Linked DNA regions of Homo sapiens: regions 1 and 2 are each linked to region 3. Evidence: fine-mapped expression QTL. A gene starts in region 3. Each other region holds a variant in brackets. All regions are shown on one strand. Distances are between the middles of the regions. Region 1 holds the start of MIR7847 (microRNA 7847). Region 2 overlaps LSP1 (lymphocyte specific protein 1). Region 3 holds the start of TNNT3 (troponin T3, fast skeletal type).

Evidence for each region. PIP is the estimated chance that this variant, and not a neighbour inherited with it, causes the effect. A credible set is the group of variants that fine-mapping cannot tell apart.
Region 1: its variant is the best candidate, but not a certain one, in a credible set for the expression of TNNT3 in CD4 T cells (Kasela 2017, PIP 0.64).
Region 2: its variant is the best candidate, but not a certain one, in a credible set for the expression of TNNT3 in ileum (GTEx, PIP 0.54).

What each region holds. Positions count from the first base shown.
Region 1 is chr11:1,875,729-1,885,803 of GRCh38, reverse strand. LSP1 (lymphocyte specific protein 1) reads right to left here. Exons shown (of 11, transcript NM_002339.3): 2 at 5,580-5,717; 3 at 4,208-4,372; 4 at 2,244-2,385; 5 at 1,780-1,872; 6 at 1,481-1,524; 7 at 1,223-1,304. MIR7847 (microRNA 7847) reads right to left here and starts at 5,759; the gene lies at 5,657-5,759. RefSeq lists enhancers at 3,575-3,784, 8,464-9,360, 9,361-10,075. The variant T/G (reference allele first, on the strand shown) is at 5,567.
Region 2 is chr11:1,864,220-1,872,081 of GRCh38, reverse strand. All of the region lies in intron 1 of LSP1 (lymphocyte specific protein 1), which reads right to left. Among named protein-coding and RNA genes, the nearest start is that of MIR4298, 8.6 kb to the right of the region's middle. RefSeq lists enhancers at 405-942, 943-1,481. The variant C/T (reference allele first, on the strand shown) is at 2,322.
Region 3 is chr11:1,914,903-1,924,977 of GRCh38, reverse strand. TNNT3 (troponin T3, fast skeletal type) reads right to left here and starts at 5,275. Exons shown (of 16, transcript NM_006757.4): 1 at 5,216-5,275; 2 at 2,087-2,121; 3 at 1,917-1,930; 4 at 1,406-1,423. The coding sequence starts at 2,103. It also overlaps a transcript of PRR33 not described here. RefSeq lists an enhancer at 7,908-7,957 and a silencer at 8,508-8,557.

The DNA of each region.
Region 1 (10,075 bases), 39 kb after region 3:
TTGCATAGAAGAGCACTGATTGGATGGAGGAATACTGGTAAGATAGAGGAGTGCTTGTTGGATAAGTGAGTACTGGGTGGATGGAGGGGCACTGGGTGGATGGAGGGGCACTGATTTAGTAGAGTGTTGGTTGGATGGAAGGATACTGGTTAGATGGAGATGTCCTGATTAGATAAAGAAGTATTGGTTGAATAGAAGGGCATTGATTGGAAGCAGAGGCATTGATTGGGTGAAACTATTTTGGTTGGATGGAGGGAAATTGATGGGATAGAAGGCCATTGATTGGGTGCAAGGCATTATTGGATGGAGGGGCATTGACTGGATGAAGTTGTTTTGGTTGGCTGGAGGGGAATTGATTGAATGGAGGAGCACTGAATGAATAGGGGTATTGATTGGATGAAGGTGTATTGGTTGGATTGAAGGGAGTTGGTGGATGAAGGACTATTGGTTGGATGCAGGGACATTGACTGGATGGAAGAGTATTGGATGATTGGATGGAGAGGTACCGATTGAATGGAGGGGCTGGCATGTGGGACTGGCATTGGTTACATGGTGAGCCATTCATTGGATAGATGAGTATTGGTTGGATGGAGGGTATTGGTCAGATGGAGAAGCATTGATGGATGGAGGAGAATTGATTGGATGGGAGGGACATTGATTGGATGGAGGGACATTGGATGCAGAGGCACTGATTGGATGGAGTAGTATTGGATGGAGGGATGAATCTTGATTGGATGGAGGGGCACTGATTGGATTAAGGAGTACTGGTTGGATAAAGGGGGATTGATTGACTGGAGGAATATTGGCTGGATAGAGGAGCATTGATAGGATGAAAGAGCATTGATTGGGTGGTGGAGTACTGTTCCGAGGGGGGCATTGATTGAATGGAGGAACACTGAATAATTGGAGGAGTATTGGTTGCAGGAGTATTGGTTGTATAAAGGAACATTAATTGGATGCAGAAGCATTGATAGGATGGGAGATTATTGGTTGGATGGAGTAGCATTGATTGAAAGGGGGGGCATTGATTACATGGAGTGACATTGATTAGATGGAGGGGCATTGATTGGGTAGAGGGGCACTGACTGGATGGAGAAGCATTGGTTGGATAGGGTGTTGGTTGAATAAGGCGGCACTGATTGGATGGAAGGGCGTTGGTTGGATGAAGGAATGGTGCCAGGATGCAGGAGGGACCTGACAGCAGAGGGGAGCCAGGTCATACCTCGATGGCCTGGGTGTATTGTTCCAGCCACTGATCAATCTTGGAGATGGGCAAGTCTGGCTGGGATTTCTTCACACTGTTACTGGAGGGTAGAAGATGTGTCAGGCCCCATGTCTCCCACAAGGCTTCTCCCAACCTGCCCAAGCCTCTCCCAGAGCCCCCCTCGGTCTCCAGATCTCTACCTTGTGACTCCCTTCAACCCCCACTTGGTTAAACCTAAGATCTGAGCCCAGAAAGCAGACAGACAGACAGACAGACCTCTTCTCTATGGAGCGGTTTAGGGACTCGGTCCTGTCGATGAGCTGCAGAGGGTGGAGAGAGACACAGGCCTGCAGCAGCCGAGGTAAAGCCCACCCTCCATCTCCCCAGCTACTCCAACCACTAATCCAACCCCCAACCCTTATATCATGGGGGTTCGCTGAGCACCGGGCAATGGGGGGATAGCAGACAAAAGCCAGGCCTGGGCCTGGTCTTCCTGTGGCTGGCATGTGGGATTGGCCTTTTGGGTATGAGTACGGGAGAGGGGAGAAGATGGCAGGCTTTGCAGCTTAACTTACTTTGGTGGTAGGGCTCAGGGGAGGCGAGCTCTGTTCGATGGTCCCCTCCAAGACCAAGGGGCTGGGTGTCCTGGGCTGCTGACATTTCTGGTGCTAGAAAAAAAAAAACAGACATCCCAAGTGACCCCCTGCTTGTGCCCCTCCTGCCCTGCCCAGCACCTGTGGGAACAAATGCTGTTCCTTCCTGAGCCCCAGGTTCTCTGTGGCCCTGACGTGCTCCAGTTCTGGAGCTGGTGGGGAGGGACTGAGGAGTCTGGAGAGATGTCTCCGGATCTTGCAAGAGGATCACTGAGCCTTGCCCTCTCTGAGAATGTGGGCCCAGAAGGGGCTGCAAGGTCTAGGGGTGTGGGGTGCTGACCCACTCTGGGCTAGACCCACAGGGCCCACAGAGTGGTGCAGACAGCCAAGGCAGACTCATCCCTGGGGTGGGGGTACACCCAGACCCTCTGAGGTGGAGCCATCACCTCCTCCTGTTCCTCCTCAGCCCCTGCGGCCCCCAGGTTGTCCTGGACAGTGTCCTCTGGGCCTGGCCCCTCCTTGCTCAGACTCAACTCCTCCAGGTGGACTTCATCACTGTCCTCCTTTTCGTAGGCATGCAGGCCGGGCCTGTGGGTGGAAAGGGAGGCAAAGCCGTTCTAGGGCCATTGGATTGCTTGGTTGACCCCTTCCTTTTTCCAAGCCTCAGTTTCCCCATCTGTAAAATGAAGGTAGTCAGGCTACTTGAGTGCCAAGGGATCTGAGACCCAAGCCCATTGGGAAAGAAGGTCCAGTGGCCTCAGAGCCAGCGCAGTCTGCTTGGGCCCCTGTGTCAGGGCCTGAGGCCCCTGGGGAACTGCCCAGTCCCTGCCAGACAGGGCTCTACAGACTGAGGGTCCCCCAGGCACTGAGGCTGGGTTCAATCCCCAGCTTTGTGGCTGGGCCTCAGCTTGGCAGCTGCTTGCACACCCGGTTGGTCTGACGGGGTCCCCGCGAGGCCGGGCTGCTGGGGCCACCACTCCTGCTCTGCTCCCTGTGGGGGCCCTTGGGTGTTTGGGGGACTGGAGGCTGGGTCATTTGGAGGGCTAGGCAGGGGTAGGGGCCAGGTCACTGAGGAGCAGGGCCAAGGGGCTGCCGGCTGCGGGGGAGGGGAGGCCAGCCAGCTGGCAGCTTTGAGCGGCTCTGCATTTGAGCAGGACTGAACCTGGAGGAGAAGATGGGAAATTCTCGAATTTTCCATGATTTCAGGCCCCTGGGTGTGCGTGCCAGCCAAGACCCAGACCCACCCGCCCAAGGTGGGCAGGGGTCTGAGCCAGCAGCAGCCACACAGAGGGGCCATTCAGGAGCAGGTCTGTGCAGCCAGGCAGGTGCAGGGGGTGGGGTGGCGGCCGCAGAGCTGGGCTCCACGGAAGAGTCAAAGCGCCCCCTGCTGGTGGGAGCAGCCTCGCCCGCCTAGGCCTGAGGCCAAGGGAGAAGGGAGCTGCCCCATCTCAGAAAAGCAGAGCCGCTGACTCCCAAGCACGTAGGGGGGAGACTGAGGCCCAGGGAGGGGGGCGGTGGGCACTGCGCCAGGCCAGGACCAGTGGTTCTTGGGGAGTGGGAGCCTGGTTGTAGGAGGACAAGGGAGCGTCGCTCAGCAACACTGGTCCCTAGAGCTCCAGGCTGGTTTAGGGCCTCAGAGGGGCCAGGAAGGACCCTGACCAGGGAGAACTGTCAGCCCAGCCATGGGCTCTGGTCCCACTCAAGGCAAGGGGGTCCTGAGCAGGGCTGGGGTCCCAGATGGCCCAGGCCCTGCAGGGCGGGTGGGGTCAGCCCCATCATGGCCACAGATGACTGAGAGCGGCAAGGACCCCGAGCAGGGGTAGTGAAGTGGGGCTCGGGAGCAGCCCCTGTTGGGCCTGTTGGGGTTGAGACAGGCACACACATCCCCACATCTGGAAAGTGCGTCCTCCCGGCCGACTCTCCGGCATGCACATCTGGAAATACCTGCTCCCCTCCGTGGGAATGGAGATCAGCCAGCCCCGAGGGAGGAAGGGGCGGCGGCGGGCTCTCAGCCTCCATTACGGAAGCGGCCGCAGCTGTGTGCTGATGTGGCAGCACCCGGCCTGGCCTCGCAGCTGCCTGGATGGGGCCCAGGGGCCCTGGGGAGCCCCAGAATGAGGTTTCCTCGCGGCCCCTCGCCGGCCACCATGCTGTCTCGCCCTCTTCCTCCCTCCCCTCCTGTCTCCCCCTTTCCTGGCCATGGGGGCATTTCAGGCTCTGCTTGGAAAGGGGAGGATGGGGTGGCTGCTCAGGCGCAGGTTGAGGGCCTGAAGGGAGCTCCGCGGTGCCCTGCTCTGCCCAGCGCCCGCCCTCGAGGTCCAGAGGGAGCCCTGCTCTGCCCAGCGCCCGCCCTCGAGGTCCAGAGGGAGCCCTGCTCTGCCCAGCGCCCGCCCTCGAGGCCCTCACTCACCTGTCCTCTTGCTCCCCCTCAGGACTCCTGCACTGGGGGGGCTCTCCGCTGTCCAAGGCGCCCTGCGCCCCCTCGTGCTGCTGCCGCTGCTCTGGCCTCTGGGACCAGTCGCCAAAGCCCTCGTCCTCATCCAGTTCAGGGGCCTCCGAGGGCTTCAGGCTGAGGCTGAGGGTAGCAGGGGGGAGCTTAGGCCTGGGCGGCTGCTGCCTCCTCTGCCCAGGGCCCACACTCACCTCACGGCGCCCGCTCAGGCCCTGGACTCCAAGTGTGGGAGACCCTGTCTGCCACAGAGCTGGCTCTGGGCTGTGTCTCCTGTGGTCAGAATACCTGAGGGCAGGGCTATGCCTCCCCCGTCAGTTCTGGGGCAGCCTGAGAACTGTGCTTCCTCCATCAGTCCAGGACTCCTTGAGGCTCAGCAGGGCTATGCCTCCTCCATCAGCCTGGGGCTACCTGAGGGCAGGGCTATGCCTCCCTCATCAGTTTGGGGCTCCCTGAGGGTAAGGCTGTGCCTCTTCGATCAGTGTAGGGCTCCCTGAGGACAGGGCTGTGCCTCCCCTGTCAGCCTGTGGCTCCCTAAGAGCAGGGCTGTGCCTCCCCCATCACTCTGGGACTCGCTAGGGCAGGGCTGGGCCTCCCCCGTCAGCCTGTGGCTCCCTAACAGCAGGGCTGTGCTTCCCCCATCAGTCTGGGGCTCCCTAGGGCAGGGCTGTGCCTCCCCCATCATCCTGGGGCTCCCCAAGGGCTGCCCTGGTCCCCACATGAGGACCCTACATGAGGTCCTCCTAAGCCCCGACTTCTCAGGCCTCCCATGTGGCAGGGGGAGCCCCTGGATAGCTGGGGCCCTTGGTGGGGGTGGCCAAGGGCCTGACTATGGTGACCGCTGAACCCCACTCTGCCCAAGGCTGCTGACTTGGAGAAAATGGAACAAAAGAGGCCAGAAGGAAGGGAAGCATTATTGGAAAAACAGCCCAGCCCAGCCGCGGAGGCCTCCTGGGCCCAAGGAGGAAGCAAGCCAGCCTGGCCGCCAAGTTGGACGTGGCTCTGTGAGTCACTGGCGGGGGAGTCTGGTGGGGGGCTCGGCCAGGCTGCGTGGCTGGGGTCAGAGGCGGTCCGAGCAAGGGCCAGGGCACGGACACAGAGCCTGGGTCAGCGCCCAGGAGGCAGCCAGGTATTGGCAGACCCTCCTCTAGGGCTGTGGCCACCCTCGCCCCAGGAGCACTCACCCACTCCCACGCCTGCTCCTGGGGGCCCTTCCTCGCTCTCATCCTGCACTGGAACCCCCAAGCCCAGGCCCTTGACCTCCCCCTCTGCCCAGGCCCCAGGGTACACGGATAGGGGCTAGAGCCCAGGCACGCGTTA[T/G]GGGGCTGCTCACAGCATCTCCTGCTTCGGCCGCTCGGGGACATGGCCGCCTCCCTCCTCGTCCTGGGCCTGAAGCTGCCTGTCTCTCTCATGCTGGCATTGCTCGTGGACGGCCTCCTCCTCGTCCTCCACGCTCCACTGAGCAGTGGGCCTAGTGGGGGACACAGAGGGACAGTCACGCCACAGCCGACACAGGTGCTGTTTTGCACCCATTCCTCCCATCTACACAGGCCTTGCTGGGGCCACACGGTGCAGGCAGCCCTGTCCACGAGGTCAGTCCCAGGCCGGCCCTCAGGCCTCACCTTGTCCATCTTTAAATAGAGGCTGCCCACGTGGTCATGAGGTGCCCTCTGGCCCAGGCGAGGGTCCTGGGGCCCTGTGAGGATCTGGGCACCCCTGTGCCCTGTGGGGATGAAGGTGGGACTCCAAGGCCCATTCAAGCCTGAAGAAACTCAAGGACAGGACAAAAGGCCCTCTGTCCCCCTCTCCCAGCCTGCCTCCCTCCCTAAGTAGAACCAGGACCTAGACCCAGGTGACCCTGGAGGGCCCAGGAAGAAGATACTGGAGTCCAGGGAGACTGGCCGCAGCCCACCGCCAGGCGGCACCTCCACCCCACCTGCGGGTGCTCCCTCCTGCACCCCAAAGGCAGGGCGTGTTGGAGAAAGGGGAGGTCGAAGGCTGAGGAAAGGAGGGCCTGAGCACGTCCAGGCAGGACACCTCCTGTCCCACCACCAGCCCCGCTCACAGAAGCTCCGCAGACTCATGGGTCCTGCCTGGGCCTAACCCCATAGCTGGGGGCACCTTACAGGGTCGGCTCACCCAACCCCACCCCATCCTTATTTCAGAGCCCTCTGCGGAGTCTCTCTGAGCTGTTTCTTTTGTTTGTTTGTTTGAGACGGAGTTTCACTCTTGTTGCCCAGGCTGGAGTGCAATGGTGTGATCTGGGCTCACCACAACCTCCGCCTCCTGGGTTCAAGCGATTCTCCTGCCTCAGCCTCCTGAGTAGCTGGGATTACAGGCATGCACCACCATACCCGGCTAATTTTGTATTTTTTAGTAGAGACAGGGTTTCTCCATGTTGGTCAGGCTGGTCCTGAACTCCCGACCTCAGGTGATCCGCCCGCCTCAGCCTCCCAAGGTGGTGGGATTACAGGGATGAGCCACCGCACCCAGCCGATTGAGCCATTTCAAAAATGGGGAAACTGAGGTAAGGGAGTGCTTCTGCCCTCAGAGCCTGAAACCATGGCTTCTTGGGGTCCCACGCGCCCCCCTCAGGGACAGAGGTAGGCACAGGCTGGCCTGGACCTGGGCATCAGAGCCCCGGCCCAGCAGCTCTCAGATGGTCCAGGTCCTGCAGACACCGCAGCCTCAGCTGTCATGGCCCTGCCTCCCATCGCCCTCCTAGAGCCTGAGAGGGGGTCCAGGGTCTCTACACTCCTACAGGGCTTATTATCCCAGACCCAGGGAGGGAGCCCAGGCCAGAACAGGGAGCAGGGCTGGGGTCTCCCCACTGGGGTCTCAGTTCTTCCCGGCCAGTGGCCGCTGCCTGACCCTGCAGCCTGATCCCCACTGGGCCCCAGTCCCCTGGCCAGACAGCCCTGCCAGCGCGTGATCTAATCTCTCCTAGGTCTCCCCTAAGCCTCTCAGACAAAAGCCAGGCCCTTCCACAGGCCCGAGTTCAAGGCCCACTCCCCCCACCGAAGCCACAGGGGACTCCAGCCACGCAAACCCAGCCGCCTGTGCACCCCGCCCCCCGCGCCCCCGAATCCGCCTGCCTGTCCTGCTCCTCAGAAGTGCCTTCAACTCCCGGCCCCCGAGGAAGCCACTTAATTCCCCACACCTGGCTCCCATCATCCGGGCAGATGAGGCCCAGCTTCCCGCTTCTGCCGGCCTCCGCATGGCTGGGGGCTGCTGGGCCTTGTTCCACCTGAGGAGGCAGAGCCTGGGGCGCAGGGGCCCTCGTGCTCACTCACGCCCCAGCCCCTCCACACAGAGGGCGGCGCAGGCTGGGGCAGAGTGTTGAGGAGGTGGAGGGGTTCCATGGAGGGGAAGCCTGGCCATATTGCTCCCCGTGTTCCCATGTCCCAGCCCCTCCATGTGAGCAAGGGCTTAGCTGGGGTGTGTGTCCCTGGGCCTGGGGCATGAGAGGGAGCCCATGCTCCTCCTTGGACCTGGGCTTCCGATGGGTCCAGGGCCCTCACTCCAGCTCCACAGACCCCCTCCACCAAGCCATAGGGGAGGCGGGGCTTGGAAGTACACATTGGCGCAGAGACCCCAGAAGCTCGTGTGCACACGTTTCCTCAGGTCCACCCCTATGGGCAAGCAGTCCGGGCCCCAACAGCCCCACAAAGGCCCTCACTCTGCTCACAGCTCATGCCCAACACATGGAGTGCGGCCGGGCGCAGGACTCCCTAGGCCTGGGGCACACGCAGGTGCACACCCAACTCACACACGTTCTCCACGAGCCCACGCTCCAGCCACACAGGCATACATGCCCGCACCCCATGCACATACAAGTATGCACGTGCTCACACACGGGAACCTTTGACATCCACGTGCGTGTGCAGACAGGCTTGGGAACAAGGGGACCACGTCCCCCTCCAGGGATCCCTTCAGGGTGCCGCAGCCTCACTTTAGTGAGGCAAACGTTGACTGTTTGCCTTGCCATTGCCCCGACAACGGCGGTGCCGGCCCTGGCACGAGGCCCAGGTGTGTACTCTGGGAACATCGTCCCTGCAGAGCTGGGCCCCTGGAGGATCACTCCGACTGAGCTCTCCCTGGCTAGGGGCCTGGGGGACAGAGTAGGGGATGCAGAGTAAGCATCTCCTGGTGTCTCCCCTAAAACCCAGTGCTGGGGAGAAGCCCGGCCAGCCCCTGGCCTCTGACCCAGCAGCCTGAGGACGTGGAGGCCTCTGGGCCCCTTCTACGTCTCCTCCCTTTCCCCTACCCCAGGATATGAGTCATGCGGGCCCCCTCCCCATGACCTCACCCCCTCACTATTCCACAGCTGGGCTCCGTTCTGGGAACTGAAAGGGGGGCAGCTCTCCTGGGGTGGGGTGGGGGCCTCTGGCCTGGGAAAGGCGCCCCCCGGCCAGCGGCCCAGGCCCCTTGGCATGCACCACGGAGCTGTCAGGACTCTGGGATGGCCGACCCCGCCCGTGGCCCTGGCTCAGCCCCGTGCAGCTGCGAGGGATTTGGTGTTCCTGCACAAATGCAATTAGGCGATTTCCTGTGTCTGTTCTGGCTCCGAAGCCCAAGGTTCAGCCCAAGGGGCCAGGCGGTGGGGGGGCTCCATCCACCTCCCACCCCAGCACACCCCCGCACCCTCACAGTCCCAGGCTCCACTTCGGGGCCTGGCCCCCAGCCAGGGACACCAGTATGCACAGAACTCTGACGGATGCCTCGTTCGGAGTGGAGCTCCCCAAGCTCAGGTCTGTTCCTGCCGGCCTCATCCACTGCCAAGCACCCCCCGACTCGGGACGCTGGCCCTTCTTCTCCTTCCTCCACAAACCCCCACCCCCACTTCTACCTCCCAGTCCCCGCTGAGGGCCTGACAATGCCCATCCTCGGCCCAGCACTCCCAGCTACCCACCTCCGTCCTCCCCCTGCAGACACTTGCAGAATGGGTGTCCGGCTCGGTCCCCGTCCCGACTCTGCCCCCTGCAGGCAGCTCCTGTGGCTGCCCCACCCGGCTGTCCTGAGCCCAGAGGGCGGCTGGAGAGGGTCCGTCCTCTCTGGGGTCCTGGGGAGTGAGGAGGCTCTGGTGAAGAGCAAGGGCTGCGGGGAGGATGTCGAGGGGAGGGGGAGCTTCTCCTCCAGGCCTGACCACAGGTCCCTTGGACACCACAGGGAGCTGGCAGGAGGCCTGGGGAGCTGGGCTGGGCCTTCCACCAGGGTGGTTCGGGGCTCCCTGCACAGCACTGAGGTCTCTGGTCCCCTCATGAGCCCAGCCTCCCCTGGGGTCCTAGACTTGACCCCTCAAGTCACTGCAGAGCCCAAGAGTGGAGAGACACAGCACCGTGTGCCGGGAAAAGGTGCCCACAGGGGCCCTCCGTGGCTGAGGCTTCCAGAGGGTAGTGGGACAGCAACCCCGCTCCCCGCCAGCCGCCCACCACAGCGTTCATGATACAGCTTCGGAGTGTGTGTCGGGGCCTATCTGGGAAGCCAGGGCAAAGGCGGTGGCAGCTGGCAGCACCCACACCCACAGCTGGGGCACTGCTCACATGAGCCCCCATCAGCAGGCCCCTTGGTTGTGCCACACGCAGGGGTCCTGCCCCAGGGAGGGGGCAGTCCAGGGAGGGGCTCGAGGGTGTGGCACAGGCCAGCTGTCACTCCTCCCTGGAGAGGCAGCTGGGGACGCAGCTGGGAGGGGAGCCAGGAGCAGAGACAGCCCGGGGCCAGCAGGTGGGTGACAGGTGGGGCAGCGGGAGGGGCATGCGCCGTCCGCCTGGGGCTCGGGCGTAGAGACGGGAACCTGCCCCCCAACGCCTGGTGCTGGCCCAGCCTCCC
Region 2 (7,862 bases), 52 kb after region 3:
CCCCAACTCTACCAGCGTGCACCAGGGTGACTATAGCCCAGGCCTGCCTGCCACACACACCCCGTCCCAAAGGTGCCAACACCAGCCAGACAGACCCCAACTCTACCAGCGTGCGCCAGGGTGACTACAGCCCAGGCCTGCCCGCCACACACCCCCCCTCCCAAAAGTGCCCACGCCAGCCAGACAGACCCCAACTCTACCAGCGTGCGCCAGGGTGACTACAGCCCAGGCCTGCCTGCCACACACACCCCGTCCCAAAAGTGCCCACGCCAGCCGGACAGACCCCAACTCTACCAGCACGGGCTGGGGTGACTACAGCCCAGGCCTGCCCGCCACACACACCCCCCTCCCAAAGGTGCCCACGCCAGCCGGACAGACCCCCAAGTCTACCCAGACACCCAACAGGAGGGGTGCCCGTGCAGCGGCAGACAGCGCTGACCAAAGGGCATCTATGACCCTGGAAACCTCATGGTGTGGCCTCCGCAGAGCCGCAAGCCTTGGCCCCCTGCTGAGACTGGAAAATGGAGCCTGGTTTCCCCCAACCCCTCTACCCCTGGCTTCCCATTGGTCCTCAGAGGCTGGGTCAGGGACCGTCCTCAGAGCAGGGTCCAGAACCGGCTTGATGTCCTGCTGACCAGCCCATCACCTCCCTTGCGCTGGGTGCCCTACCTCTTTTGATGTGCTCTGTGGTCAGCCCTGTGCCGGCAGCACCCTTGTCCCGCTCTGCAGCTGTTTCACATCTCTGCCCCCATCTGCGGCGACCAGCCTGGGTCGGAGGTTAGGGCCCCGCCCTGCTCGTGGGTGGCCCTGCCTGCTGCATCCCGGCGGCGTGGCTGCGGCTCTGCCTGCCCCGTGCCTGCTCTTTCTTCCCCCCTCCTCCTGTTCTGCGTGCTGTGCATATGGCTTTCTGTCTTCCTCCGTGTCACTAACCACAACGCTGCCGAGCCCGTGCCACGAGCGAGGCGACCTGCGGGACCTTTCTGGGGCCCTCGCCTGCACTCCGCGATCAGCGTCCTCCGCCGCAGCTCTCACCCTCGCATGCGTCTACATGCAGCCCCACTCGGTGCCTGCTTCCCGCAGGAGGGGACCAAGGAGCCCTGATACCTACAGGTCCACCGACAGCCCGGCTGCGCCTCCCGCCTTTGCTCGACGGCCCTCGGGAGCGCTGCGGCGCCTGGGCCAGCTGGGACTGCCCTGGCAGAGCTCTTGCCGTGCTCACGAGGCAGGCTTTTGGCACGTTCTGGGACACGCAACCAGTCCCTGGCAACGGCTCGAGGCTCTGCCATCCTCTTTCCTTCCCAGCTAGCCATGCCCAGATGTACCTCACATCCCTGAAGTCTCTGCCCACAGATGCTGCCCGAAGCGCTCCCATCCTCCACGCAACCAGAGGCTTCATACATTATTCAGACGTGGTGCCCACCTGGGCGGGAGCCACAGCCGGCACCCAGAGAGAAGGACCAAGCCAGCCTGGCATTCAACCACCTGCTCCACTCCCACAGCACCGGGATCTTCCTACCGTAGCACCCAGCAGCCAGGCCCTCTTCCTGACACCCCCACACCATGTCTGCCTGTGGAGCTCTGGGGTGCCCGGCCTGGCCACCGGCCCCTCCCCGAAGCTTTCATGGCTGACCAGCCCCTCCCAGACTCATCATCCCTGGGGGTGCAGGGAAGACATGGCAGAGCAGAAAAGAGTCTGCCCCTGGGCCGGCACTTCTTTCCCAGGAGACTCCCCGGTGTATGTCCCCGGGTGCTGCGGGCACCCCCTGCCAAGCCCCAGGATGGGAGTAAGCTTTGGTGCCTCCCTGAGCCTCAGCTTTCCTGTTTGCAAAATGGGGTATGAAGGACCAGCTTCAGTGGGCCGTGGGAGACTCACATGGCCTTGGGATGTCCTCATGGCTGAGGTCAAGTGGACCGGCCTTGGTCCTCTGCACCAGAGGTCCAGACATCCCCGTTTAAAGAGGCACAGTGAGCACCAGTGCAGCCAGCGCCTCCGTCCTCACAATGGTCGCCAGGGGCGCAGTCCTATCATCCCCATTACAGATGCACAAACGGAGGCTCGGAGGTGCACCTCTCACGTCTCACGCAGGGGTCCCAGGGAGCTGATGACGTGGCTGGGGCTCCAACCCCTCAACCCCCAAGAACCGGGTGTGGGGAAGACCAGGCAGGGACAGAGGCCAGAAGAGGTGCTGCTCCTGAATGTGAGTGGAGGGTCCTGACCCAGGGGGTCCCAGTCCGGGTGCAGAAATTCATTTCTCAGTCTCGGGGAAAACCAGCCCCCCCCACGCCCCCTCCTCTGTGGGGCGCCCCATTTTCCTCGCCCG[C/T]CCTCTCCTTGGCAAGCTCGCCAGCCCTCGCCTGGCCTCACTGCGTTCCTCCAGCATCCATTTCTCGCTTCTTTGATCTTCCTCCTACCGCCCGTCTTTGGAGCACCAAGAAGCTGTGTGAGACAGCGGCTCTGAGCCTTCTGCCCCGGCACCTGCTAGGTGCGGCCCACGTGGGAGAGACCCCTCCTCCCACACCTGGGGTCGGCGGCAAGGGGCAGTGCCCGGGACCCTCACACAGCTTCCATTCGCACCTCAGCCCCTCCCTCTGCCCTTCCCATCCTGCCACCACCCTGCACCCGCTTCTGCTCCCCCTCCCTCCTCCTTCAAGGCAGCCCCTGCTCTCCCTCCCTCTCAGCATTTTTCCCTCCCTTTCTCTCATTTCTTTCTCGTGCCTTCGCTTTCTTTCTTTCTTTTCTCTGTCACTTCTCCCCAGGTAGGGTTTGTTCTCGTCAAGAGACCCTCACAGCCCCAGGCACAGGGTTGCCCCCCTCCCAGCATCCCTGGCCAGGCCCGGCCCTCAATCTCACCTCCGCAAGCACCACCTCAGCTCGCACCAATACCTCCCCAACCCGTCATGGGTAGCAGCCGACCCTCAAGCCTCCCGGGTCTCAGCCCACTTGGAGCCTGGGGCAGGGGCCAAGCCCCTCACCCTTCTCCCTAATGGTCCCCGCCCCATCCAGGGGTCACCCAAGGGCTTCTCTCCCACAAGCTCCCACTTGCAGTGGCTCCTGTCTGCCCTCCAGAGACCTCTGTGGTTAACCCCAGTCCACCGACCTCTGCCAAGCCGCTCTGAGCCGGATGCTCAGTCCCCGGGGCCATGCTCCCTCTGGCCTCAGGGTGCCTCCCCTTTACGGTTCCAGCAGGGGCATCTGGGGGTCGAGTGCCCAGGGCACCCTGGCTGCCGCTTGCTGGCCGCTCTGCCCAGCTCTGGTTCGCCGGCTGGGACTGAAGCCTGAACCGCCGTCCTCTGGGCTCTGGCCCTGACACCCTGCCCAGGGGGCTGGGCCACTCGGTCCCTGCACCCCTGCTGCTGGCTCGCCTGGGCTTCTGGGCAGGACGGGCTCTGTCCGAAGACCGACTTCCAGCCCTGCCAGGGCGGGGGCTACCCCACCCTCAGGATCTCAGGCCTGGATGGGCCCAAGGCAGCCACACCCTTTTGGACACTGTGGTTGGAGGCCTGGCTTCCCCCAGCCCCCTCAGGGCCAGCCCAGCAGGCTGCCAGCCCATTCCTGCCCCACTGGCCACATCAGGAGCCCCAGAGGTCCCTGGACCAGGCTGCTCAGGGTGGGTCCCTGCCTGAGGGGCCTTAGAGCCCTGCGGAGAGCCAAGCACGGTGTGGCTGCCACATCTGTATATGTGTGGGCAGATGTGTGCCCGAGATGGAGGGAATGGAGGGGCTCACACCGCCCAAAGAGCCATGGCTAAGGGTGGGCACGGGGCTCCGGGGACCTCAATGCTTGATAAGAACGTCTGCCAGGCTGATCCCCAGCCCCCCTCTTCACTCCGGGCCAGGCTACAAGGCACTCTCAGCCGGCCTGGTGCCCTCTCACAAAGCCAGGACCCCACAGGTAGCAGGGCCAGGCCGCTGGCTGAGTCCGGGTGACGTCTGGAGTTGAGTGGGCTGAAGTCCTCTTGAGGTCCCCTGACCATCCCTAACACTTGCCTTGCCCGAGCTGGCCCTGGGAGAGCCCCGAGTTGCCCAGGGGCAGGCAGGAGGCACAGGGCAGACTCCCAGGTGCCTGGAAGGGCAGACTTGGCAGGGAGGCATTGGGGGTAGGTCAGCCCAGGGCCTGACCCTGCCAGCCAGAAGCCGCATTCTGGCAGGGGCTGGGTACAGCCAGACCTGGAGAAAATGGTGTTATGGGACTACATGCAGAGCCCCTGGGCTTGCACTGGGTGTAGACAAGGAGAATCGCTGGGGCAGGGGTGGGGGGCGACGGGGCAGGGGGGACACGTTTTCCCACTGGCCCAGAGCACCATTTTTAATGGATGTAAACTGCATTGAATTTATTCCCTGGCAGCTGCGGGCACCTAGCATGGCCCTTCAGGGTTCATCACTGAGGACACAGCACTTTGCCTGCAATGCCTCTCCCAGCCCTGCACCTGACATGGCAGGACACCCAAGGGGTCCCCGGGAAAGGGGTGGGGTGATGCGGGTGGAGGAGGGACCCAGGGACCCGGGCTCATCATGCCCGGCTGAGTGGCCTTGAAGTCTCTTCACCCACAGCTTCTCTGAGCCTGGCTCACTCCTTTATCCAACAGGGAGTGGGTAGGGGGCAGTCTGCCTGGCCTGCAGGGCTGGGACTGGGGAAGTCCGAGCTGTTGGAGGCTGCAGAGAAGAGATCATGGCAGTGGTGGTGAGCGCAGTACTGTCCCGGGTGGTCGTGTGTGTGTGCATGTGTGTGTGTGGGTGTGGTGGGTGGGTGGGGTGCAGCGGCCTCTGGGTCTGTGTCCTGGAGGGGGTGTGTATTAGTGCACACGTGTCAGCCTTGCTTCATGTAGCTCACCTTGGTGGCTCCCCTTAGCTGGACAAGGGACTCTTGCTGCCCTCTGCCCAGCCCCCATCAGGACAAGTTCCAAGGGAGTTCAAAGGGACGGGTCCTTATGCCACCAACCCACTGGCTGACCACCGCAAGTGAGGTCCCCTCCTCACTGTCTCCTCCCCAGGTCCACAGGGACTGGCCCCGAGCCTGAGCCCACGCGGCTTCAGTGCCTCCTCCCCAGGTCCACAGGGACTGGCCCTGAGCCTGGGCCCACGCGGCTTCAGTGTCTCCTCCCCAGGTCCACAGGGACTGGCCCCGAGCCTGGGCCCACACGGTTTCAGTGCCTCCTGAGTGCGGCTTGCTCACCTGGGGCTGCAGTTGGTGCTGGGCCCGCTGGACGGATGCTCATGGCCGAGCCCCTGGTGACAAGGGGGTGAGCCACCGCACAGCCAGGCAGGGGCTCTGCCCCTCCTCCGGGGGCTGCACTTCCTTCTCTTGGGCCCATTTGTTAAGTAGCACTGGTGAGCCTGGGGGATTGACCCCAGGCACTCCTCAAATCCCAGGCCACAGAGCTCCTGGTGGACAGCAGCGTCCCCTGGGAAAACACATTCCCGTTGGGCAGGGAGGGAGGTCTGACCAGCAGAGCCTGGAAGCCCAGGAGGAGGAGGCTTATGGGGGGCCAGGGGTAGGGGGAGGCTGGGATGAGGTGTGCCCAGCCAGGGGCCCACTGCAGATCCTGGTGCTGGTCCTGAACTCAGGTGACAGCCGGAGACCCTGCCAGGTGGGGACCAGATCGGAGCCATCTCTCTGCATCTGCACGGACCCAACAAGTGGGAGCTGGGGAGGAGGGGTGAGCCGGGCTGCCCTCAACTCCTCAGACCCCACTTAGCTCACCCCCATGGGCATCCCTGGCTCTCTGGCCTCTCAGAGTCTCAGCACTGAGTGCCTGGCCTGGGTGGGCAGTGGCAAGCCGACCGATGCCAGCCCTGCCTTCCAGTAGCTCGAGGTCCGGCCAGCATGCTCCATGCCATCAAAGGAAGTCAGAGCAGGACAGCCCTCCAGGTTAGGAAGAAGCAAGGCAGCCTTCAAGCAGGAGGTGGTGTTTCAGTTTGGCTTAAAAGCCTGGAAGGGTTGAGGAGGAGAAAGGGCACTACAGGCGGCTCAGAGTGGCTGACGGTGCAGAGGGATATCTCTGAGACTGCCCAGGCTGGGTCTTGAGGAGCCTTGGGCCCTCCAAACTCTGCTCTCCCACCTGACCCCATGAAGGGCCACACCACTACTTTACAGAGGAAGAAACAGGCTGGGAGAGGGCACCACACTGGCCCAACACCTGCAGGTGGACAAGGCCCGGGCACCTTCCCTGGCCCTGAGGAGCCTCCCACTCAGGGTTGGTGGCTGCAGCCAGGGCCGGTAAGCTCAGCCCAAAGTTCAGTTTCATGATCTGTGAAGTGAGGGTGACTGAAGGGTGCCCAGGATCCGAAGGACCCCACGGGAGGCCCCAGAAGCCACCCAGAGGATGGGCCCTTCATTTTGGGGGCTCAGAGTCAAGCAGAATCCCTGGGGCTCGGGGAGAGGTGTGAGCAGGTGACAGTGCAGCCGGCGGTGCAGGTGGGACGGCGTGAGCGGGTGACAGTGCAGTCGGTGGTGCAGGTGGGATGGTGTGAATGGGTGACAGTGCAGCCGGCGGTGCAGGTGGGACGGTGTGAGCGGGTGACAGTGCAGCCGGCGGTGCGGGTGGGACGGTGTGAGCAGGCGACAGCGCAGCCGGCAGTGCAGGTGGGATGGGGAAGGAGAATGCATGGGCAGCTGCCAGGAGCCAGGAGGAAGAGAGGCCTCAAGCAGCCTCCGCACTCACACATGTACACGCAACCAGCCTGGCACCCTCTCGCTGCCCACGCTTGGGGCAGCAGAGCCTACCGAAGCTGGGGGGAGGCCCAGTGGCCCGGTGCATGTGGCAGCCCAGCATGGGCACCCTGCCCTGCCCTCCATGCCCAGCCAGGGCAGGAGGGACCTACCTCAAGAGGTATCCAGGCCCTGTCTGCTAGAGTTCCTCCTCAGAAGCCCGGGACTGCCCAGGCTGCAGCCTCTGCTCAGGCGGCGACCTGGCCTGACCCCAGCCCCGGGGATAGAGCAGCATCTCAAAGGCTCCTGTCCTGCTGGCCCTCCTCTCTGCTGCCCTCCTCCCGCACCCCTGCCCCCCTGTGCCCAGCTCTCCTTGGCTTTCCTGCCTCTCCTGGCCCCTCTCACTCCTGCACTTCCTTGGCGCTCTGCCCTGGCCCTCGGTCTCTCGCTGGCTGTCACCCCTCCCCTGTCCCTTCTCTCTGTCTGGTGTTCTCCTTGTCCCTGTGACCCTCTGCCTGCCTGTCTTGGCCCCTCTGGCCCCTGGCACAGGAGTCTGTGGGCCGGCTCCCTTGGGCAGCCTGGTCCCTCCCTCTGGCACCTGGCACAGGGGTCTGTGGGCAGCCTGGTCCCTCCCTTCGGCTCCTGGCACGAGGGTCTGCAGGCCGGCTCCCTGCAGGCAGCCTGGTCCCTGTGTCCCCATCCCTGTGGGTCTCCCTGACTGTGGGTCTCCCTTTCCCCTCTCCTACTTCAGGACTCTCAGCAGCTGCTTCTCTTTTGTTTCCCCCAGCCCCCTTCTCCTCCCGCCTCCATCTCTTCCACCTCCACCTCCTCCTCCTTCCGAGAAGAGTAAAAATGTCAGAGCGAAAACTCTCCCAGCCCAGCAGCGTGGGGCTCAGCCAGACCTCTGTGGCGCGCTGATGGGCAGCGTGGCTGCCTCCTTCCCTCCCTCCCTCCCTTCCTCTTTCCCTTCCTCCCTCCGCCTCTGCCCTCAGGCCACCTTGGTAGCCGCTGCCCGCTTCTCGGTCTCCCCTAGCCCTCTGTGGTGCCCCTGCCCCAGGCACAGGGGCCTATTCTGCCCATCGCCGCCTCCCACCTCGGAGTGCCTCATGCCCTCTGCCAGGCCCTGCCCGGGCCCTCCTCTGTTCTTCTCCTTCGTCGGCCGTTCTTGTCCAGCCCCTCGTCAACCTGCCACCTCCCTCACCATCATCGCAGGCCT
Region 3 (10,075 bases):
CCTGGGGCTCGCTTGGCAGGGGTGAAAGATGGGGCTCAGTCCTGCATCTCTGGCCAGCCCCGGGGAGCACGGACTCCCACCAGCAGAGCTGGTCACTGTCAGCTGGGCTGGGCCCGGCCCCTGAGAGGGGTTCTGAGGCCCCTCCCACCCTCCTGGGGGCCTGGTATTCCCATGCCTGGAGGCGCCTGTGCACGGGGGCCCTTGTTAAGTCCTGCTCTGCAGGTGACACAAGTGAGAACGGGGACAGAACCCACAGGGCCTGCGGGAAGCCCCGGCTCTGAGTGCACCCGGAAACAAGGCTGGCACTGAGGGGTCTTCAGAGACATGTCGCACGAAGACCCTTCCGTGGCCTCCCGGCCTGCCACGTGGCTGCCCCAAGAGAAAAGATGGCTCCCCAGTGCCATATTTCCCTCGCAGAAATGAGTCTTTCCACCTTTTCGGCAGAAAAATAAATGTTTTGCTCACGTTGTTAGGGTAGCCAAGTGTTTTCAAAATATTTTCAAAACATAGCACTCAGGACTCCTCACAGGACAGCCCTGCCTGCTAAGGTTGCGTGAACGCGCTCCCCAGTTGAGTGGGTGCCAGGGATTCCAGGGCAGCGCCGTCGGCCTGAGAACCGCCACCCCACACGGTTCCCAGGTGCGCCCACACCCGCCCACGCCTGCCCGGGCACGATGGAGACGCCCACAGACCACACCTGGCCAGCACAGGGAGGGGGCTCCAGGCTCCACCCAGGGTTACAGCACAGGGTTGGGGGGTGGCATGGAGGGATGGAGACACAGAGAGACAGAGATGGAGATGGAGGTGGAGAAATGGGGACAGAGAGGCCAAGAAAGACAGAGACTGAGAGAGAGAGGCAGGGAGAGACAGAGACCAAGAGGCTGAAAGATACAGAGACAGAGAGAAGCTGAGAGATACACAGGCACACAGAGAGACAAAGTTGCCAAGAGAGACACGGAAAGGAACTGGAGAGAGATGGAGAGACTCTGAGATGCCGGGAGGGTAGAGATAGAGAGAGAGGCAGAGAGACAGCAGCACTGGGCACGCAGGGCACTCGGTGTTTTGAGGCCTTCATGACCAGCCCCAGTGAACTCCACACACCATGGCACACGGAGGATGAAGGATTAATGAAGGATCGTGAATGCATATTAATCGATTAAAGAGACAGGGGTTAGTGATGATTTAATGACTCATCCATCATTAATTAAGTGGTGGCCTCATTTATCATTAATTAATGATGAATGGTGATTGTTAGTGACTAATGATGAGGAAGATGGAAGGTTGATTGACAAGCTCAAGGCGGCCTGGAGCAGCCTGGGGAGGGGGTTCTGTGAGCGCCACACGGGAGAGGGGGGTTAAGTTCCAAGGAGGGGCTGGGGGGGCTTCCGGTGGTTGCCAGAATTACCTTCTTCTTCGTACTGCTCTGCATTGGGACAGAACAAAGAGGGGAACCACGTTAGAAGGGGCAGCCCGTGAAGGGAGGAGGAGGATGAGAGGCCAGTGTGTCCCGGCCCTGGACAGGCCAGCGACTGCCCCTGCCCAAGAGCGTGGAATCAGGGGTCCTCGGGCCCTGAGGAGGCGCTGGGGAAGGCAGAGGCTCTGGTGATGATGGTGGCTTTTGGGGGGCTCGGGGGTCCTGGATGCCCACGTCCCACAGTGGGCATGAGAGAAGCAGAGAGACAGGACCCAGAGCCTGACCTGCAGGCCCCTCAGGACCATGTGGCCACACTTCGGGGAAAAGACGAGGCCCCCCACTTGGACAGCTGTTTTCCGGGGGTCACTCAGAAGCCACCCATGGGATGCAGCTGATGTAGGGCTGTCAAGGGGACACAGGGTATGCACAGTCCAGCCCCCTGCCCACATGTGAGCCTTCCTTCTAGAGCAGGAAGTAGAAAGAAAATGGCTGTTACACTTACCCTCCACCTGTTCACTGTGGGGCAGGGAGAGAGAGAGAAAGAAAGAGAGAGAGGTAGTGAGGCTGGGCTTTGCTTGGACTTGTGCAAGATAGCGCATGCTCCAGCCCCACAGAAGCCAAGGGGCCAGGGTCCCGAGCCAGGCAGGGGGCAGCCACCAGCTGGGTACTCACACTTCCTCGTCAGACATGGTGAAGGTGGGTGGTTTCTGCAGAGAGAGATTCAGAGAGAGAGAGAGAGAGAGGATGGAAAGAGAGTTACGAGCTGCCTGGGTGTAGGATGGGGGATGGGGTCTTGGAGCAGCGCTGTGGGGGACCGCGGGCAGGGTTTGGGGGCCAGCTCTGGCCTTGGGTGAGTCCACCTCCTTGGGCCTCCCCTTTCTCCAGGGCTCCTGGCCCCTCCCAGCTCTTGGCGCCCCAGACTCTGTCCCCTCTTCCTGCCCTGGCTCCAGACTGGAGCTTGGAATCTTGGAGCTGGAAGGGATGTTGGAAGGTCGTGGCGTCCACCCCCACCCAGGGCAGACATCCTCTCCGTGGCGTCCCCTGAGGAGGGTCATCCAGAATGCAGGCCGTGTGCCGTCCAGCCCGCTCTAGACACTGGAAAGGTCCCGCTGATGGAGCTGAAACCTGTCTCTGGGTGTTCTCTGCCCAGTGGGTGTAGGTGGGGTCTCCCTGGGAGCCCCTGGATGACCGAGACTGGCTCCCCAAGATGAGTAATCTGCTCACCCTACCATTCCCCATGAGAACCCCTCTTCCCTATTTGAGCCCAAAGCTCCCTTCTGTGCCTGTTTTCCTATGGGGTGCCCAGAGTGTGTCCCACCACACCCCTCTGAGGACCCCTCCTCCAAGATCACAGAGCAGGGAAGCTGTTCCTTCTTGTTACCCCTGTACCCTGAAAACATTGAGGCTGAGCCCCAGAGCACGTTGGGTTGGGTCTGGGCCGCTTCCCGTGCACCCCCCCGGGCCGGGCTCTGTACAAGGCATACTTGGACTGCAGGAGCCCACAGAACAGCCCCCCCATTTCCCTCCCTGTGGCCGCTTTCCCTGGTCCCGGGGATGCTCTGGATCTGTCCCTGTCTAGGGGAAGCTCCATGCCCAGGACTGGCTGCCCTGTCCATGTGCGGTGGTGGCGCCAGGCCAGCATGCTGGGGACCGTCTCTCTGTGAGCTGGCCACCGTGCACACTGGGCGGCCAGGCCTGGGGAGGCTCTGAGCAGCTGCACCGGCATGTTGGCCAGGGTTTTAGAAAACAAAGTTCATTACAACACAGTACAGATTACTCGAAGACAATAGCTACGGTCCCCCCTGGGAGTGTTGTATAAGGAAAACACACGTTCATCAGCTAAAAATGCATCTACGTTGCACTGCTGAGGTGGGAACCGTTTTCCAAACCCTCTGTCAAGAATGTTAATTTTCCCAGAGCAACTTAAGCTCCATGCAAAATTACCCAGCAGATAGCTGTCTTCCAGGCAACGGGGGTAGCTTTTTCCTATCCCAGAATCTCTTCCTGAGACTCTGCTGCCCCTCAGGTTAAGCCTCTTGTAACTGCCACGGCTGGGCCAGGCTCTCCTCAGTCCTCAGCCCCACGAGCCAGTGTTGTCCAGGCCCCCGGTGTGACCCAGTCCCAGGCTGCCCACCAGCCCCTCGTGCTGTCCTCCCAGCTGGTTCAGGCCCCAAACGCCACAGACTCCTCTAGGGCCATCCTCTGTAAGGAGGAGGAGGGTCAGTGAAGGGAGGGAGCGGAGCCTGGCCCCGCCCTGCTGTGCCCAGCCCGACGCTGGCGGGGCAGACACCTGTCGGCTGCCACAAGATGGGGGCAGCGTGGCCCTCGCCTGGGGTGGGTTATTTATAAGGAGCCAGTGGCAGCTGAGGTGTCCAGAAATAGGCAAGACGTTTCTGCCCAGAAACCCAAGACGTGGGTGAGGCGGGTGTGACAGCCCAGCCCTCCTTGGCCCACAGCTGCCCCCTCACCCTCGGGCACCCAGGCCCTCCCCAGCTCCTCATATTTCCCTCCTGTCCCCCCAGGCCAGAGTCACATGGGTGCCCCAACACCCTCAGGCAGGGTGACCTCCAGGCCCCCCGACGTGCGCTGGAAAGGCCCACTCTCCAAGTGGGGAAACTGAGGCACCTGGTTTTCTGCTGAGCGCCTGGAAGCAACACAAGGCTGTTCTGTTCCCCCCAGTATGGCCTGTGTCATTGCCTCTGTTGCGGGGAGGGGCTGGTGGCAGGGGTGTGCTGGGGGCAGGGGTGTGCTGGGGGCAGGGGATGGCATTTCAACAGCTGAGACGCAAAGCAGGTGTCCAGTTAGTGCCTGCCTTGGAGGGGCTGCGTGAAAATAACCTATGCGGTCAGTTTCTTCGGGCACGTATGCATCACCTTTCCCTCCTTGGGAGGTGACGGGGCCAGGGCAGGGTGGGGAGGCAAAAGCCGCTGCCCCTTGCTTGCTGTGGCCCTGACCATGCCCCCAGACCTGTTCTCCACCCAGCCAACCTTTGCTTTGCCCCATGTCCCTCCGTGGACTTCAGGAGGGGCAGCCAAGGCCTGATCAGACGGCACAAGTCAGGGGGACCGTGTCCAGGGCAGGGAGGGTGGGTGGGGGCTCTTACGAGCGCCAGCTTCTCCAGCCTCCAGCCAGGGGGACGCGATGAAGCCCAGCCCCTCACTCTTGCCCCGTCCTGCCCCAGTCCAGCCCCTGTCCACTTCTGTCCTGCACCTCCAGACGCTGGCCCCCAAGGCTGCGTGGGCTTTAGACGCCCCCACCCCAACACACTCGGGCTGGCCATACAGGAGCCCCTGCCCTCCTGTCCTCGTTTTCATCTCTACAAAATGGCGGTGTTGGAGGCCCAGGTGCGAGAGCTGCATGGCAAGGCCAGGACGGGCCTGGGCAAATGTCTGCATGGCGACCACAAGCTGGCAACCTAAGCCCTGGCAGCACCCCTGCACAGCCTCTTCCCTGCCGCTCACAGCCCGCACCTCTCTGCCTCCTGCCCTCAGGCCACTCCCTAGCACTGAGCTTCCCTGAGCCCCGACTTGCCCCCTCCTGGCCTCCCACACTCTGCCTTCTTCTGCATCCTCCCGGTGCTGAGACCATCACACCACCATGTCCGCATCCCAGACTCTCCGGACGCTGGAGCAGCCACCTGGGGGCTCCGAGCCATGATGCTTCGAGATGCTCGGCACCACACGGACCTGGGACCTCAGCGCCCCAGGACCCCAGAGTGTCCCTGGAACGAGGGGCTGTCCACCCGCACGCAGGAGGCCCCGTCGGCCCCAGTCCTGGGTGGCCGCTCCTGCCTATACCCACCTGCGGGTCGAGTGTGAGAAGGGCTGGAGCTCCCTGTGGACAGCACCGGCTGCAGGCACTGGCGCCCGGCTCACACCCTCGTGTTATAGTGACATTTGATCTTCCTAGGAGCCCATTGGCCAGTGACTGGGTGGCCGGGGTGTGTGCGGAGTCTTGCTGGGGGGGGCTATGCCCGTGCAGGCCCCTTACCAAGTATAGGAATGGCCAGAGGAGGAGGCTGAAGGAGGCCAGGATGCAGAGGACGTGCTTGGAGAAGGAGGCAAGGTCCTCCCTCCGCCTCCAGGAGGTGTCAGCTGCTATTTTTACTCCCAGCAGCGGGTACATTCTGGATGGGCTGAGGAGGGAGGAGGAAGGTGTTGGGTGGCCCCGGGGCACCAAGCCGAGGCTCTCTTTGGGCCAAACTAGTGTGGGGGTCCCCAGAGCCAGGCTGCCGGGTTTCCCACCCCCCCGCCCCTTCTCTCTGAGATGTTCTGTGGGAGTAAACATTTGTCCAGGAAAAGGGTCCGCACAGCCGGGGTCCCCTCCCGCCGCCCGGCCCAATGCCCCAGGCCCTTCGCTGTCTCCCCCGGGGAGGAAGCAGCCTGAGGCCTCGGAGACCCCCCATGGAACTGAGGCCAGGCCCCCACCCTATCTGAGACCCTCTTAGAGGCCAGCTCTGCTTTCCTGGCTAGACACCGTTGGGGCCTACACAATAAGCGGGCGAGGGACATGGCCAGGCTGGCTGCAGTCCGAGTCTGCCATACCTCCCCCCGGGGCTGCTGCCATTGCAGGGGGCTACACATGGAGTTTGCTGGGTAAGGGTCTGGGTCCTCCCTCTAGGCCCTTTCTAACCCTGGGGCCCCACCCTGGGCACTCGCAGTGGCCGTTACCATCTGTGCCAGCATCTCCCACAGGCTCATTGTGGCGTGTGGAGACTGGTTTTCTTTCCTCAGGACTCCAGGTGGCACCGTCCGACTAGCAGACATCCTTCCTGGCCTCTGATGGCCTGTATGCTGGCCAGTGAGGCCACCAGATTGGATAACCCTGCCTCTTGGATCAGGGAAACTGAGGCACCAGGTGGGGGAGAGCAGTCTGGCACCCTGACCCACCCCCTCACTCCCCTCAGACCCCACAGGCTGAGCGTGGGCGGTGGTGTCTGCGGAACTCTTCGGTTCAGGCACAGATTGGTTCCTTCTTGGCCAGCGCCCAGGACAGGGGTGAGTCCCGAGAGGCACAGATGAGGTCCCTGTCCTCCCCAGGCTTAGAGTCAGGGACAACAGGATAACCCGGCAGGGGCTCACAGTGCCCTGGGGCCGGGTCGGGGGCCTTCCGGAAGGCTGTGGTTGGCACCTCATTCCACCCCTCCATGGAAGAGCGAGGCCGCAGAGCCCAGGGACAGGCAAGGTGTGCCTGGGGTCACACGACAAGGCGGGCTGGCCCCAGGCTGCCATTTCAAAGGACAGGGCCGGTCCCCTGCCTGCCTCCCGCTGAGTGCCCGGCACTGGGAAGGCTCTTGGAGCTGGGGTTGCTGGGAACGTCGCCGTCCTCCTGCTCTGGGTCTGTGGCTTCGTCTGCATTCCACGCCTTCCCCTCCCTGTCCATGTCCTCGATGGGCAAGGCTTTGGGGGCCACAAACAGCCCTGGCCCCTGGATATCTGTGACCAGCTTCCTGCCCACTGGGGACATCTGCAGAACTGCTCCCTCAGAGGCACGTGAGCGGGTCCCTGGGGGTCAGCGGGCCCACCCCATCCTCTCCCATGGTGGGGCCAACCTCCTTTTCCAGGCTCGCTCTGCCGGCTTCTCTAACGGAGCCCTGAGCCCACCATTCTGGTTACACGTGGTTCAGTCTGCAGGCCTAGGAAGCCTGTGCCCACCCAAGCCCTCACCCAGGCCAGGGGTCCTGAGGGGCGCACCTGAAGGTGGGTGTGCCATAACCCTGCACTGGCCCCGTGTGGCCAGCAGGGGAAGGTGCTGCCCGCCCAGCTCCTGGAGCTTTGGCAGGCGCTCTCCGCCCAGCCAGCTGAGGTCAGAGGGATAGGGCAGGTTTTATTTTGGGTATCGGCGACCTCCCCCTCGGGCGCTGGGCCTGAGGCGTAGCAGGGACTGCACAGAGCAGGCACCAGCGGCCTCGAGGGCCTGCACCAGGTAACCCATGCCCTGCTGCCATCTGGCCGGACCGGGATGGTCCAAGGAGAGGAGGCAGGGCAGGGGCCTCCTGGGGGACTGTAGACCTGGGTGGGGGCAGGGCACAAGGGAGGCCCAGCCTGGGTTGGGGACGCATTTCCACCCAGGAGGAGTCTGAGGACGGACCACGGGGCCTTGGCTCTAGGGCAGTTGTTGGGGGATGGGGGGGTTCTGAAATTGGCAAATGCTGAGCCAAGCCCAGGGAGTGGGGAGCAGGCTGTGGGAGGGAGGATGGCCTCCTGAGTGTCTTGGCTGCAGCTCCCTGCCTGGGTGGCCCCCAGATGGTGGCCGGGGCCCCTCAATCTAGGTCCCAGCACCCAGTGCGCATGGTTGGGGGTGGTGGAGACCAAGAGGGTCCTGAGCCTCTCCTCATGCCCTGAGCTGACCTGAGCCCCCAGGCTGGATCCAGCCTGAGGCCGCTCGGCCCAGCTGTGGGCTCAATCACTGCCAGGCCCAGGACAGGAGCAGCTGACACAGCACTTGGGAACTGAGCTGCTCCAGCCCTAGGTAGCTGCCTCCCCACATGCCTAGTGCTTCTGATTTTGCAGTTTCATTGACTCGTTCTGCAGATATGATGGGTGTCTTCTCTGTGGCTGGCCTAGGGGCTTGTAGCAAGGGTCACAGGGTGTCTGGTGGCTGCTCTGGCAGGCAGGACAGAGGCTAGGGGCTTCATCTGCCATCCCTGGCCAGGGGCCTCTTAGGCTGCAGGCCTTTTGAGCCTCCTGACCTCCGCATTGGGCATGGCCTGACCTCCAGGTTTCCAGGAGCAGGGGCATGGGGTTGCTGTGGCCGTGGACGGGAGGCTGCATCAGAAACACAGCAGGGCTGTGGCTGGGTAGAGCTCAGAGGGACAGGCCCTGGGTCCTTGTTCTCGAGGCTGAGCCGAGGGGTGCAGATGATCTGACAAGGGGCCAGGGCTGGTCGGGGGCGGGGTGGGCAGTGGCTGCCTCCTCAGCACTGCTGACCCCAACTACCCCCTGCCCCTGGTGCTGTCCACTCTGCACCCCAGTGCTGAGTGCCCAACTGTGGCCTTTGGGCCTGCCTCTCGGCTGCCCTTGGTCACCGTCCCAAGCGGATCAGGTGGGAAACAAGGGGAGTGCTGTCACTGGGTGGTTCCCCAGCTGGGGAGGGTGGCCTGGATCCTCTCTCAGTGGCTGGGGCATCTGAGAAAGGATGGGGGCACGTCACCTCCCTTGTGTGGGTGGTGGCTCTGTCGAGGTTTTGCTTTTCTGAACTGTGTGTATTCATGAGGCAAGCAGGGTTTGACATGAAGCCTTCAGAAAATAGTGGCTGTGAGGACCCAAGGGAATGGCAAAGTGAAGTCCAGAACATCAGAGTCTGGGGTGCTGCTCCTCGAAGGGACTTCCCAGACGCTGAAGGCTGCAGGGCTGAGTGTCAGGGCCCAGTGCAAGACCTGGGAGAGGAGGGACAGGAGGGAGGGTGTCCCCAGGCTGTCTGCTATTTCACACAGTTGTCCATTCATCCACCCATCTATTCATTCCCATGCATTCACTCTCACCTTCACCACTTCCTTTCCTTCCTTCCTCCCTCCTTCTCTTCCATCATCCATCCCTCCGTCTGTCCATCCTTTCAACCACCCATACAATCACCTACCCATCCACTCATCCCTCCATTTCATCTATCCCTCCCGCCATCCATCCATCCATCCATCATTAGTCTATCCATCCATTCATCCACCCACCTATCCATCTATCTACCCATCCATCTACCTGTCTATCCATCCATCCATCCATCTCTTCATCTATCCATCTACCCATTCATGCATCCATCCATCCCTCCCTCCCTCCCTTCATCCACCCTCCCTTCATCCATCCATCCCTCCCTCCATCCATCCATCCACACATCCACTCATCACCCCAACACACACACCTCCCCACAACACACACACACACAGAAACATCACCCCCCCAAAACACACACACATAACATCACCCCCCACAACACACACACACAGAAACATCACCCCGCACACACACACATACAAATAATATCCCCCCCAACACATGCACACACAGAAACATCACCCCCCACAACACACACACACACAGAAACATCCCAGGTGTGTGACCCCACAACACACACAAAGAAACATCATCTGAGGTGTGTGACCCCACAACACATACACACACACGCAGAAACATCATCCCAGGTGCGTGACCGCACAACATACACACACAGACACACACACACAGAAACATCATCCCACGTGTGTGACCCCACAACACACAGACACACACATACAGAAACATCATCTCAGATGTCCTATCCCACAACACACACACAGAGAATAACATCATCCCCAGGGATGTGATCCCAGAACACACACACATAGCAATATCATCCCTAAGTGTGTACACCCCACAAGACACACACACACACAGAGAAACATCATCCCAGTTGTGTGGCCCCAGAACACACACACACACACACACACACACAGAAACATCATCCCAGGTGTGTGACCCCACAAAACACACAGACACAGAGAAACATCCCAGGTGTGTGACCCCATAACACATACACACACACACTCACAAACATCATCCGTGTGTCCCCACAACACACACACAGAGAAATATCATCCCCAGGTTTGTACACCCAACACACACATACACAAACATCATCCCCAGGTGTGTGACCTCACAACACACACACAGACACACACAGAGCAACATC